Homo sapiens: one gene and its partner. The protein of the gene in region 1 interacts with the protein of each later gene in a pairwise test. Each region holds a gene or a part of one and is shown on either strand. Other genes may lie near its edges.

Region 1 (5,092 bases):
CCACCTCGCAGACAGCGCGCTCGCCTGAAGCCTCCCTTACCCCCGCAATCCTCTTTTCTGCTCCTCCCGTCCCACTGCCGTGTGTGTCCCTCTGCTCCCTGTTCCCACGGCCGTTTCTGCAGGTGGGGACCAGCGTTTCCTTGACAGCTTCCTGACCTGGCCCCTCTCTGCACCAAAGTGTCTCCCTGGGGGAGGGGACCCTGCCTGGGTACCCCCATCCCCCTGCCTCTGGCACTTACAGGGGCCTTCACCACTTGCCCAGGGCAGACCCTACCAAGTTTCTGCCTCTCTCTTCCCATCTTCTCCCTCCCTGGCTCTGCCTCTCCCACTGTTCACTCTTCCTGTTTACCTTTCTCTGCCTCTCCCATCTCTTTCTCTCTCTTCTTTACATTCTATCTCTAACACCCATCCCTGCTTTGCTCCCCGCAACACACAGCCTTTTCCTCATTCCCCTCAGAGGACCCCACAGTGGCTGAGCTTCCTGTTCTGGATATGCCTGGCCGAGAGACCCTGGCCTGACACTGTCCTTCTGGGTTTCAACATGAATTTCCAGGATGGGACCTAGAGCTTAGGGACCCACGTCTCCCTCCGTCTAGTGCCTTAGCCCCTCCTGGGTCAGGCAGCTTCACCAATCAGCTTCTAGGAGGAGATGCTGTCCCTGGCTATGGGACATTCCTTGAGTCATTCCTGTGTCCGCCCAGTTGACCAACATCCACATACACTGGTTGCTGATGCTGTCTGCAGCAGGAGTTGGGCCTTCTCACATGGAGCCCCAGGGTGCTGGGGAGGCCACCCCATGGTGATTCAGTGGCTGGCACAGACACGCTGGGTCTGCTCAGACACAGCCAGGGCAGTGTCATTGTCTCCTGGGGATCAGGAGAGGCCTGGTGGAGGAAGGTACCCTGGGGGACAAGGCCGGGGGAGGATACTCTTTCCCTGTGGGCCTTATTCTTCCATTCATTCACTCAACAAGTACAGGTCAGGCTCCCGGGACACGGCAGGCACTGATGGTACTGGGGCACAGCGATGAACAGAGAGAGATTTGCTCACTGCCCTCAATGATTCATAGGGCAGCCAGCCTCGCCAGGGTGTCCGTGCCACCCCCCGCCTCCTGCTTTCCCCTTGTCTGCCTGCTCTGTTCATCCATCCATCCGCCTGTCCATCTGTCTGTCCACTTCTGCTGCGCTGACCCCATCTAGTAACTCACAGTTGGTTTCTTGTGGAGTCTTGGCTCTCTCCATCCCCCAAGCAGGGTTCAGTCCCTGAGGCAGTTGGGTTCTTGTTCCCAAGTTGATCACCCCCTCCTCCTGGTGGGGACAGGGGTGAGAGTCCAGTGATCCTTCTGCCTAGATCCCAGGAAAGGTCTAAGTTCAGAGGCCAGGGACTGGGGCTAGTTCAGAGGAATGACAATAGTGAAGACAGTGGCCTGGGCTGGGCACAGAAACCTGAGTCCTTTCCACTTAGTGCCTGGTCCCTTCATGCCCTGTGCATGCTCCACCTCCCAGCCCACTCTTGAGTAATTTTACCCCCACCTTGCACCTGTCTCAGCCATCAGAGGGATTCATGCTCTGACCTCCCTCCGCATTAGGACTGCCAGGACAGAGCAGCAGTTGGCCCCACTCCAAGTCACTCTAACCCCCTTGCCTTGGGAACCTGTGCAGACCAGCTCTGGGCAAAGCCCCCTACCACCTGGCCCCACCCCCCTGCTTTCCTTCCCTCCCTCTCAAGGGGTCTCCCCAATGGCTTCACTTAGTCTGGTCATGATGGTGGAGCTATAAGAGACATCAGCTGGGACTCCCTGAGATTGGTGTGTGCCCCAGCTTAGGTCAACAGAGTCGTGCCTACTAAGCTCCTCCTGCTCCCAAATCTGTCCCATTCAAAGAGAGCCAGGTGCATTACTGGGGACACCTGAGACAGAACTAACCAACCCTAGTCCTGGGCCAGGGCTGCTGACTGGCGGCTCTGGAGGTAAGAGGGAGGCCAGGGAGCCCTGGCCGAGAGTCAGTAGGCTCTGATTCAAGCCCCAACTCTGCCCTCTCTGGGCCTATTTCCCCATTGTACAGTGGGACAAGAGTCCTGCTGGTCTCTTGGGCCACATCCAGAGAGGCTCTGGAAGTAGGCAGGGTCTCTGCTCCAAGGGAGGGCTGAGGAGAGACCTGATGCCCACGGGGCCATCTCTGCAGGTGGCGCCTGGGTGGCATACGGAGCTACAACCCTGAGCAGATCATGCTGAGTGCTGCGGTGCGCCGGACCAGCCGGGACGTCAGCATCATGAAGGAGAAGCTTATTTTCTCAGGTACACAGCCCTGCAGACAGGTGGAGGCAGGCCCTGGGCCCAGCTTTCTGCACCCCCACATGCAAACAGATGTGTATGCACACACATTCACATGTGGCACATATGGGTAGGGACAAGGGCACAGACGTACATAAACCCACCGGGATTATACCCACAGACATACAAAGGCATAAGTACACGTGTGAAAACACACACCCCCACACACACAGTCATCCACCCTGTCATCCACCATGGCTTGGTGTCAGTGCCATGGTTGGTGGGCAGGGGTGGGGTAGGGAGAGGAGTCTGTTTTGAAGGCCCATCCCCCTTTGCCTGGTTCGTACTTGGATCCTACAATGTTGGCCTCACCCTTGCTCTTTGCCAGTCCCTGTCAACATTCCCAGTCTGATGGAAGCAGCAGCTACGTATATAAACAGTGGCAGGGAAAGTCGAGTTCCTGCGATGGGAGTGCCGGGCGGGGGGCGGGAGGACGTGGTCAGAGCTGCCTGGGCAGTGAGGAAGGCTTTGGGCGCCTGATACACTGAGATGGGGAGGATGCAGAGGAGGTGCTTTGGTAATGGCTTCAAGATGAGGGCCGAGTGAGCTGAGGGAAGGAAGGGCATTCCAGGTGGGCACGGCATGTGTGCAGAGGTGGCAAGGGAGCACCGCTTGCCTGGGCACCAAGAATGAAGTGTCCCTCTATATGGCCGAACTCCACTCAGCAGAGCTTTCTTGAGCCTCTGCTCTGTGTCCAGCACTCTACCAGGCCCTGGGGACATAGATGCCCAGAACCCACCCTGGTCCTTGAGGTATTTTGGGGGCCCAGGCAGCAACCATACAGAATATGGCCAGGGCAGAAGGAAGCAGGGTCTGGAGTTGCCATGAGGAGGCCCTAACTCGGCCCAGGGCTCCGATGAGGTTCCCAGGAGGCTGAGTGACAGATGAGAAGACTTGAGCCAGACTGTAGGAAAAGGAGGTGTTGTTGGGGCAGTCACTCCTAAGAGAGGGGCTGACACATGCAAAGGCCCTGAGGAGAGTGGACACATGGGTGCCAAGCTCAGGGGCACAGGTGGTTTTCTGTGGCTGCAGAGTCCCAGGGGACAGCAGATGAAGGCGAAGCTAGAGTGCTCAGCAGACACCAAAGGGGCCTTGAGTGCCAGGCTCAATGTCGACCTGAGCCCAGTGGTTTCATCAGCCTCCAAGTGCCCCGCTGGGTGGTGCAGCCTTCCTGCCCCATCTGTCACCCATCCTCACGACTGCCTCCTCCCCGACTCACATTCTGTCTCCCTCTGGCCCAGCAGAGATCAGCGATGGTGTAGAGGTCTCCGATGTGCTCTCCGTATGTTCAGACAACAGTTATGACACATATGCCAACAGCACCGCCACCCCTGTGGGCCCCCGAGGGGGTGGCAGCCACACCAAGACCCTCATAGAGCGGAGTGGGCGTTAGCTGAAGACATGTCTGTCCCACCTGTACCTGACACAGAAGCTGGGGAGCCTAGGAGAGCTGGTGGAAGTGTGTCTGAACTCGGAGTGCTCTGGGAGCGGGCTCCACAGCCTCCTTGTGGGCTCCAGCCCCTTGTCAGCCGCAGCCTCTCTTGAGGGGGACTCCCTGTCTCCTGAGGCCCAGCTGGGCCAGGACTCCATCCTTTCAGATGCCCCTGCAGGCCTGGGGCTCCTTCTGGGAAGTATGGGGCCTAGGGCTTGGTCCCCCTCTTCTGAGGCCCTCTCCTGTATCCCGACCTGGAAGCTTTGATGGGTCATGGGCCATGCCATACCCCCTGTGGCAATGGAGTGTGTGGATGCTCACCTGTGCCATCTGTCCTCCTGTCTGTGCCAGGAGGCACCTGAGTTCTCTGCTGTTATCCTGCCCCAAGGGCCTGGGCCGAGCCTCTACCTGAAGCAACTCTGCTCTTCCTGTCAGTCTCAAAGCACAAGGAGGTTCAGCCCAGGAGGAAGCCAGCTGCAATGTGGAGACACGTCCTCCTCCCCAACCCACCTCATGCCACCGCCAACCCCCTGCCCCAGGAGCGGGCCTGAGCCACGTCCTCTAGGAGCAGCTGGAGATGGCCAAAAGAGTGAGCTCAGGACTACTGGATCCCATGCCCAGGTGTCCAGCAGACCTCAAGGCAGAAGGGTCACCTAACCCAGGAGTCCACAGACTGATGTGACCTCAGGTTCCCACATCAGTGGCCACAGGGCAGGGCCCACCTGGTAGAAGTGTTCTGGATATGGCCAGGGTGGGTGTGTGGCTAAGTGGGCCTGAACAGAGGGAACCTAGGGCCCTTGGCCAATGTGATTAAAGCTGCCATCTTGATGTGTGTTGTCTCTGAATTGCCAGCAGGAGGGTGGGGACAAGTGCGCTGGGTCTAGGTTTCAGTTCTGACCCTATAATCTGAGGAGGAACCATTCTCAGGAATGAATGGGAAAGTGGCAGAATGGTGCCTCCCCTTCCCTGGGTCCGCCATGGTGCCAGTGGCTGGGAGCCGGTATCCTCATATGGTGGATGGGGAGACAGTCTTGGAGAGGTAAAGTGACCTCCAAAAGCCACACAGCTTAGAACAGGCCAAGCCAGAATCCCATCCAGACTCTGGCCCCAGCGCATATGTGTGCCTCCCATAAGCTAGGAATGACACGCAGAGGGGGAGGGCTCCTGGGTCCAATGTAGGGCTGGGAGTGGGACTGGCAGGTGCCCTCACAGCCACATGAAGGCATTCTGAACCTCCCGGCTATGTTGGGACAAGCCCTCAGCACAGGGAGGCCTCTTCCCCATGCCAGGAGTTTGGCTTTGACTTCTCCGAGCTTTGGACCTGCCTG
Region 2 (7,290 bases), on another chromosome or scaffold:
GAATGCGTATCAGAACTTGTAGGTTCCTTAAAATGTTTATATATAAAAATATATTTAACCCCTTTGCTCTGTGTGGGAAGTCATTCTTTTTGATCTTTGATTTATACAAGTTCCAGATTGGTTTATATTTAAGTACAAGTTGCTATAGTTCAGTCTGAGGTAAATTGCATCAGCAGTTTAAAGGAGAATTTTAAACATTATATTCCAGAATATTTATAAATTAAACCACCTACTCTAAAATTAAGTAATACAGGTAATGGAACATGTTTCAAGTAACATTTCTCTCTTTCTCTCTCTTTCGCTCTCTCTCTCTCTCTCTCTCTCTCTCCTACTTACATCAGAAAAAAACCCAATGACTTGTTACTAGAGAACAGACTAGGGCTGATATTTTCATTCCTAGCATATGAAAAACCCAGGCTTTTACTGTTTAGTTTTTAAAATCTTTTTCACTATTAAAGAAAAAGGAAAGAAAAAATTGTTGAATGTGGCTGAAGGAGAATTATCTTTAAAATATTTTAAATACAGTTGTTTTCTAGAAAGCATTTTCTATAGTTATATAAAAGTTTGATCTCCTGATACTATAGTAAAATAGCACAGTTGTAAAGTGCATTCCCTTATATTTTCATGCATTTACAGATGAGTTTAATTATTCGAATTAAGATGTGTGATTTTTTTAGCATCCATTGAACTTTTATTATTTTATTATGTACACACATTAGTCTTTGAGAGTTGATGCAGAATTGTGTTGTAAAAGTGGAACTATAGTAATTTGCACACAGTCCATGTCAAGAAAATAATCATCACATGCAAGTGTTTGAACTCTCAGGGTCTTATCATGGATTCTGATATCAAATCCTATTTTATTTTTAAGTTAAGCTTAAATCTGTAATAAAAACGAGTTATTTTGACATTTTTTATTTATACACATTTATGTAAATACTTTTTTGTAGCAGTATTTTAGACTTATATAGGATATTCTCTGTGTTTCCACTTCCCCTCCCCAGCGCACATATATCATTATTCAGACAGCTTAGATAACATTCTGTTGATCCCTGTCAAGTAGTCAAAGTATGAAATTTTGGAGTTACTGTATTTGAAATTCTTTAGCTCAAATCACTGAGGGACCCATTTTAAAATAATCCCGTCTTATTATTTTGCTTCATTTTTAATATCTTTTAGCGACAGCGATGAGGAAAAGAAAGCGAGAAGAGGCAGATCTCCCAAAGGTGAATTCAAAGATGAAGAGGAGACTGTGACGACAAAGCATATTCATATCACACAGGCCACAGAGACCACCACAACCAGACACAAGCGCACAGCAAATCCTTCCAAAACCATTGATCTTGGAGCAGCAGCACATTACACAGGGGACAAAGCAAGTCCAGATCAGAATGCTTCAACCCACACACCTCAGTCTTCAGTTAAGGTGGGAATGGCAGTAGTTTACACATTATACATGGTTTTATTTTTATAAACCGCTCTTCGAATTCCTGCATTAGTAGGCTTGGGCATTTCTAGGCAATCATATTAATTATGGATCATCTGGCATGTATTACCAAGAGACATTAATAATAAGAAATCTCTTTGAGGGGAGAAACCTGTCCAATTGCTGAATGATTGGGTACTTTCTATGAAAGTAGAAATGACACTTTTGGTTTGTTTGGGGAAGGTTGTGAATCAGAATGTAGTGCCTCTGTCCCCATCTAGACAATACTGGTTACCAACCACAAGTAGATTCACTAAAGAAAACATTGGAAGTATTTGAAAGTTTTAAGAAATGACAAACGAGGGAGTAAGAAGAGATATATAGGGGCAAGTTATCTCATGTAATGTAGAAACGTTGCCTATAAAGGGAGGCGTGTTTGCCTCACAGTCATTACTGATCAGTATCAAAAGAAGCACTGCCTCTTGTACCATCTTCGTTTGTTTTTATTTACCATAGAGATGAAATCCACCTGCTAGGTACCTGGCCAAACCCTAGTCTTTTCAACAGAAATCTGCCAAATAGGGAGATTTGCCTCAAAAGACTAAATTATTGTTTTTGTCACTTTCCCCGACTACTGTTTCCCCAGTTTGTGTCTTTGCAAGAGAAATAGCTAAAAGCTGGGAAAAACAGTTTTCTAATGTATGCAGCAGATTGTAGGTGACTCTGAAAATAAAACCAGGCCTGCTTAGTTGCAATAACAAATACCATGTCAGCTTTTGCCAAATATCTGTATAATTTTTTTAATAATAGAGACTTTTATCACATATCTTAAAGGATTTTAAATAACAGTTTGTAGTATAGCCTGAATATATGACACTCTGCAATAAATATTTTATATTTGTAGTACAAGCTTTTTCTTTTTCTTTTTCTTTTTTTGGAAGACCGAGTTTCGCTCTTGTTGCCCAGGCTAGAGTGCAATGGCGCGATCTTGGCTCACCGCAACCTCTGCTTCCCAGGTTCAAGTGATTCTCCTGCCTCAGCCTCCCGAGTAGCTGAGATTACAGGCATGCACCACCATGCCCGGCTAATTTTTTTGTATTTTTAGTAGAGACGGGCTTTCTCCATGTTGGTCAGGCTAGTCTCGAACTCCCGACCTCAAGTGATCCACCTGCTTCGGCCTCCCAAAGTGTTGGGATTACAGGCTTGAGCCACCGCGCCCGGCAGTACAAGCTTTTTCTTTTTTGTTTTCATTTACCCTCCTCCCCTCAAAAAAAATGTCTAGAAGGTTGAAGTTCTTAGAAAGTTACCCAACTCATTTGGATCTGTTCTTAAAGGTGTTTTGGAATCACAGTATATAGTATTTTAGTTTTCAAAGTTCAAATCAACATGCCTAGGATCTTAGGGTTTCCCCATTGCCTAATAATTGAGTTCTAATTTAGCATGTATATATCTAACATATAGGACATAGGTATTTAGGTATCAGGGTGCTTAGCTTTGTGGAGAAGATAAAAATAGTATTACAGGTATAGGCCTCAGTTTAGTTGGGGAACTAAATATGAAACATATCAATATATCAAATAACATAGAATTATACTAACTTGTGTGATATACAAACAATAAGTTTTGCTAAGGTTCATAGAAATTTAGAGCTGTTTAGGATCTTGACCTCTAATCCAGTGGATCTCAAGCCTTGGAATTATCTAGGGAGCTTTCTTGTAAGACTTTAACAGGCCAAGGTCTTGGCCTTTTTATACCTGGGCAATTATGACTCAGTGTATTGTATGGGACTGGTACATATGCTAGGGTATTTTTTTTTTTTTTTTTTTTTAATGAACTGATACTTAGCATTAAGATTCAAGTGGGATCTGGCAGTTAATATTTTCCAGAGTGAAATGCAGTCAGAAAAGTGAGGTAGGAAAAAAAGTGTCAATGTTAAGAGACTTTTACACTGCTGGGAATGGAGGTACTTAAAAGTGCTTGCTGCCTCTCCATAAGGATTCAAGGTCAGTACTCTTTTTCCAGAAAACCCTACCCTTATTAAGCTAATTACAGGTATTTATGTCTAAATTGAGAATTAGAGATGGATAGAGCTGATTTTTAGAAAAACAAACTTTTCGAAGCTCCTGAGTTATGTGTGTGTTTTCAGACTTCAGTGCCTAGCAGCAAGTCATCTGGTGACCTTGTTGATCTGTTTGATGGCACCAGCCAGTCAACAGGTAAGCTTCTACATTGGCCTTTTCTTTTGGTTTGAGAGTCATTTTTTAAAATGCCAAATAAAAGATAGATTGAAAAATAAGATTACTTATTTGCATTGGGTTCATTTTTTATATGAAATTAGTGAGTCTTGAGCATTATTTGGAATCATTGTGTTATTTTTGCTTATCTTTTTATATGTACACCCATTTCTCTATCCCTATTTTATACCTTTTTCTGACCCACCCTCAGACTAGCAAAACTTTGTTTGTGGTCAGTACTTATTGGTGGTTAATAATAGTATCCTCAAATCATTATCATACTTAGATTTTAATGACTCCTCATACCTGATGTACTGTGTCTTCCCTAATTAATAATAAATAGTATTTCAAGGCATCATGTACTTTCTGAAATTTTTCATCATAGATTTTGGAATCTATAGTTTCCATTTTTAATTTTTAAGATTAACTTGGAGAAACAAAAAATTGCATTTAAACTGTTGCCTTTACTTTCTTTATAAGCAAAAGGTACTGCTCTGCGCATTTTACTGTCTTTCCCTAAATTTTAATTGCAGCTGTCACCTTGGGCATGCCTAGAGATCATTTAACTTTTTATTCTTTTAATTGAACAAATATTTGTTGAACCAGACACTGATCTGGGTGCTTGTAAAAAACAGAGTTGTTGTCCTCATGCGAAGGTCAAGTGGAGAAAATAATCATTAATCAGAGTCACAAATAGTTATCTAGTGATAAACAATGGCAAGTGCTTCAGTCAGAGGAATGACATTCTCTGAAAGTATGTAACTACCAAACATATTTAAAGAGGGCGGCTGGGCGTGGTGGCTGACCCCTGTAATCCCAGCACTTTGGGAGGCCGAGGGAGGTGGATCACCTGAGATCAGGAGTTCGAGACCAGCCTGGCCAACATGGTGATACCCTGTCTCTACTGAAAATACAAAAATTAGCCGGGTATGGTGGCAGGTACCTGTAATCCCAGCTACTCGGGAGGCTGAGGCAGGAGAATCACTTGAACCCGGGAGGCGGAGGTTGCAGTGAACGGAGATTGCGCCATTGCACTCCAGCCTGGGCAACAACAGTGAAAAACTCCATCTCGGAAAAAAAAAAAAAAAAGAGAGGGCTACAGCAAAAGAACTGTTTACCTTGAATTTCTCATAGATGAGATTGATGATTTCTTCAGTTTGATTTCCAGTATGTGCTAGATTTTGAGTAATTTCTGATCAATTGTTTTCAAGAAAATTGATATTTTTAGGGTTGTATTTGATGATTATGGAGTTTTAATAAACTATTGTGTGACGTGTCAAAATAGTTTAACAAATACATCTTCTGTTTAAAGACAGTCTTTCCAAGCCTAAGTTCATTTCACATTAAAATGTAGACAGTAAGATGGGGGTATGACTAATGTGCAAAGTAAATTTATTATTCCCAGTTGTGTGTAATGATTTTTCAAAGCCGAATTGTGGCTGTGCACAGTGGCTCACACCTGTAATCCCAGCACTTTGGGAGGCCGAGGCAGGCGGATCACCTGAGGTCAGGAGTTCAAGACCAGCATGGCCAACATGGTGAAACCCTGTCTCTACTAAAACTACAAAAATTAGTTTGGCGTGGTGATGGGCACCTTTAATCCCCGCTACTCAGGAGACTAAGGCAGGAGAATCGCTTGAACCCAGGAGGTGGAGTTTGCAATGAGCTGAGATCATGCCACTACACTCCAGCTGGAGTGACAGAGCAAGACTCTTGTCTCAAAAAAAAAAAAACTTTAACTTAACCTTTAAGTGTAAGTCTATGCTGGAAATTACTTTTCACTGATAGTTTAGTATAATTAATGTAATATAAAGCCCCCTATTATTTCCTCCTCCTTACCTACTATGTTAAAATTCTTGGATTAGGCATGAACTTTATTCAAGCAATTCTCTTGCCTAAGCTTCTCGAGTAGCTGGGATTACAGTCACCTGCCACCATGCCTGGCTAATTTTTGTATATTTAGTAGAGACGGAGTTTCACTGTGTTGGCCAGGCTGGTCTCGAACTCCTGACCTCAGGTGATCTGCCTGCCTCAGCCTCCCGAAGTGCTGGGATTACAGGTGTGAGCCACTGCACCCAGCCCAGACATCTGGTTTGACCTACTTTCTTTCTCTATTTTTTTTTTTGAGACAGAGTTTCGCCCTTGTTGCCCAGGCTGGAGTGCAGTACACAGTCTTGACTCACTGCAACCTCTGCCTCCCGGGTTCAAGCGATTCTCCTGCCTCAGTCTCCTGAGTAGCTGGAATTTCAGGCATGCGCCACCACGCCCGGCTGATTTTTGTATTTTTAGTAGAGACAGGGTTTCTCCATGTTGGCCAGCTTGGTCTCAAACTCCTGACCTCAGGTGATCCACCTGTTTTGGCCTCCCAAAGTGCTGGGATTACAGGCGTGAGCCACCATGCCTGGCCAGCCTACTTTCTGAAATTCTTCAATTCCCTTTCCCGTTTTTCTGTAACTGCAAACTGTTCCTAAAATTATTCATTAAACTTGATTGGACTGTAATGCCCAAGGTTACGGACAGCTACATTAGTTGTGTAACAATTTATGTGATATATTTTTATATGTTTAAGATTTGAACTGTAGAATTAACTGGTAGTTAGCATGTAGTCATATAATACAGATATAGTGTCACAGAATATCAACTATTTTGGACTTCCTGGCATGAAATATTTAAAGGGCCCCTTTCATGCATCTGTGAAAAGTTTTAATGGAGCAATCAGAGAAGAATTAACTAGGAAGGTCAGATGGGTGGATGTAACTTTTCCTCTGTGACATCAAGATTGCTTTGAACAGAGAGATTTATTAAATACCAACATGCTTCCTTTACTTGGCAAGGAACCTTTGAGTGGTTTGTCTTCTCCAGTGCAAACAGTAGTTTGACTAATTAAATAGAAGTAGCAATTGATATTAATATAGTAACTGAGAAAGTTTGAATGAAATCTAGGAGGTTTCTTGCCTTAAATTTTATTTTATCTTAATAAAAAGCAACTAATAGAGATTGATATTAGAAGAATTTTTTAAAATTAAAGTTATCTCCTATTTGAAACCGTATGTTTAACCAGTTTGTGCAGCTCCCTCTTCAATCAGTACATAAATTTAGTTACTCCCAATCTCTATTTAAATATTTTAATAATATATTTTAAATTGAATTCAGCAGTGAAAGGAAATTGGGCATTAAATCTTTAGCACTTACACGAGAAGGTATAAGAATCTACCATATTAACATTGCTATTTGGTATGTCATTTGGGTGTCATTTACCAGATGTGCCCATATTTATAATAGTACCATCATGCAAGTAATGTGGGCACAAACTGTAAAGCTAAGCAGATATGGCATCTGTACCACTCACCAGCTAAATATATCCTCTGAGAAAATGTTCAGATTTTTGTGTGTGTGTGATTACATGTTCTTAGCATTCTCAAAAGTATATATGGTAAAATCATTGTAGAATATCTTACCAAGTTTAAAAATATATATGTAAAACCTAACTATCAGGATTTACTTGAGACTATCTCATATCTTAATAAAATGTCCCCTTGTGGTGATATTCTTTTAAAACCTGTACTCACATGGTGTTTCAGTTGCTTTTACATAAAGTACATTTCTAAGTAAACATTTTAAGAAATGAAA

Evidence for each region.
Region 2: the proteins of GDPD5 (region 1) and CLINT1 interact in binary tests that used the Homo sapiens proteins (3 or more experiments, as listed by UniProt).

Annotation. Positions count from the first base shown.
Region 1 is NC_000011.10:75,434,140-75,439,231, reverse strand, and holds the end of GDPD5 (glycerophosphodiester phosphodiesterase domain-containing protein 5), read left to right. Parts: intron 1-2,183; coding exon 2,184-2,296; intron 2,297-3,573; coding exon of another isoform or gene 3,574-3,576; coding exon 3,577-3,725; 3' UTR 3,726-4,592; downstream 4,593-5,092. UniProt on the Homo sapiens protein: Glycerophosphodiester phosphodiesterase that promotes neurite formation and drives spinal motor neuron differentiation.
Region 2 is NC_000005.10:157,800,002-157,807,291, reverse strand, and holds part of CLINT1 (clathrin interactor 1), read left to right. Parts: intron 1-1,179; coding exon 1,180-1,426; intron 1,427-3,572; coding exon 3,573-3,642; intron 3,643-7,290. UniProt on the Homo sapiens protein: Binds to membranes enriched in phosphatidylinositol 4,5-bisphosphate (PtdIns(4,5)P2). May have a role in transport via clathrin-coated vesicles from the trans-Golgi network to endosomes. Stimulates clathrin assembly.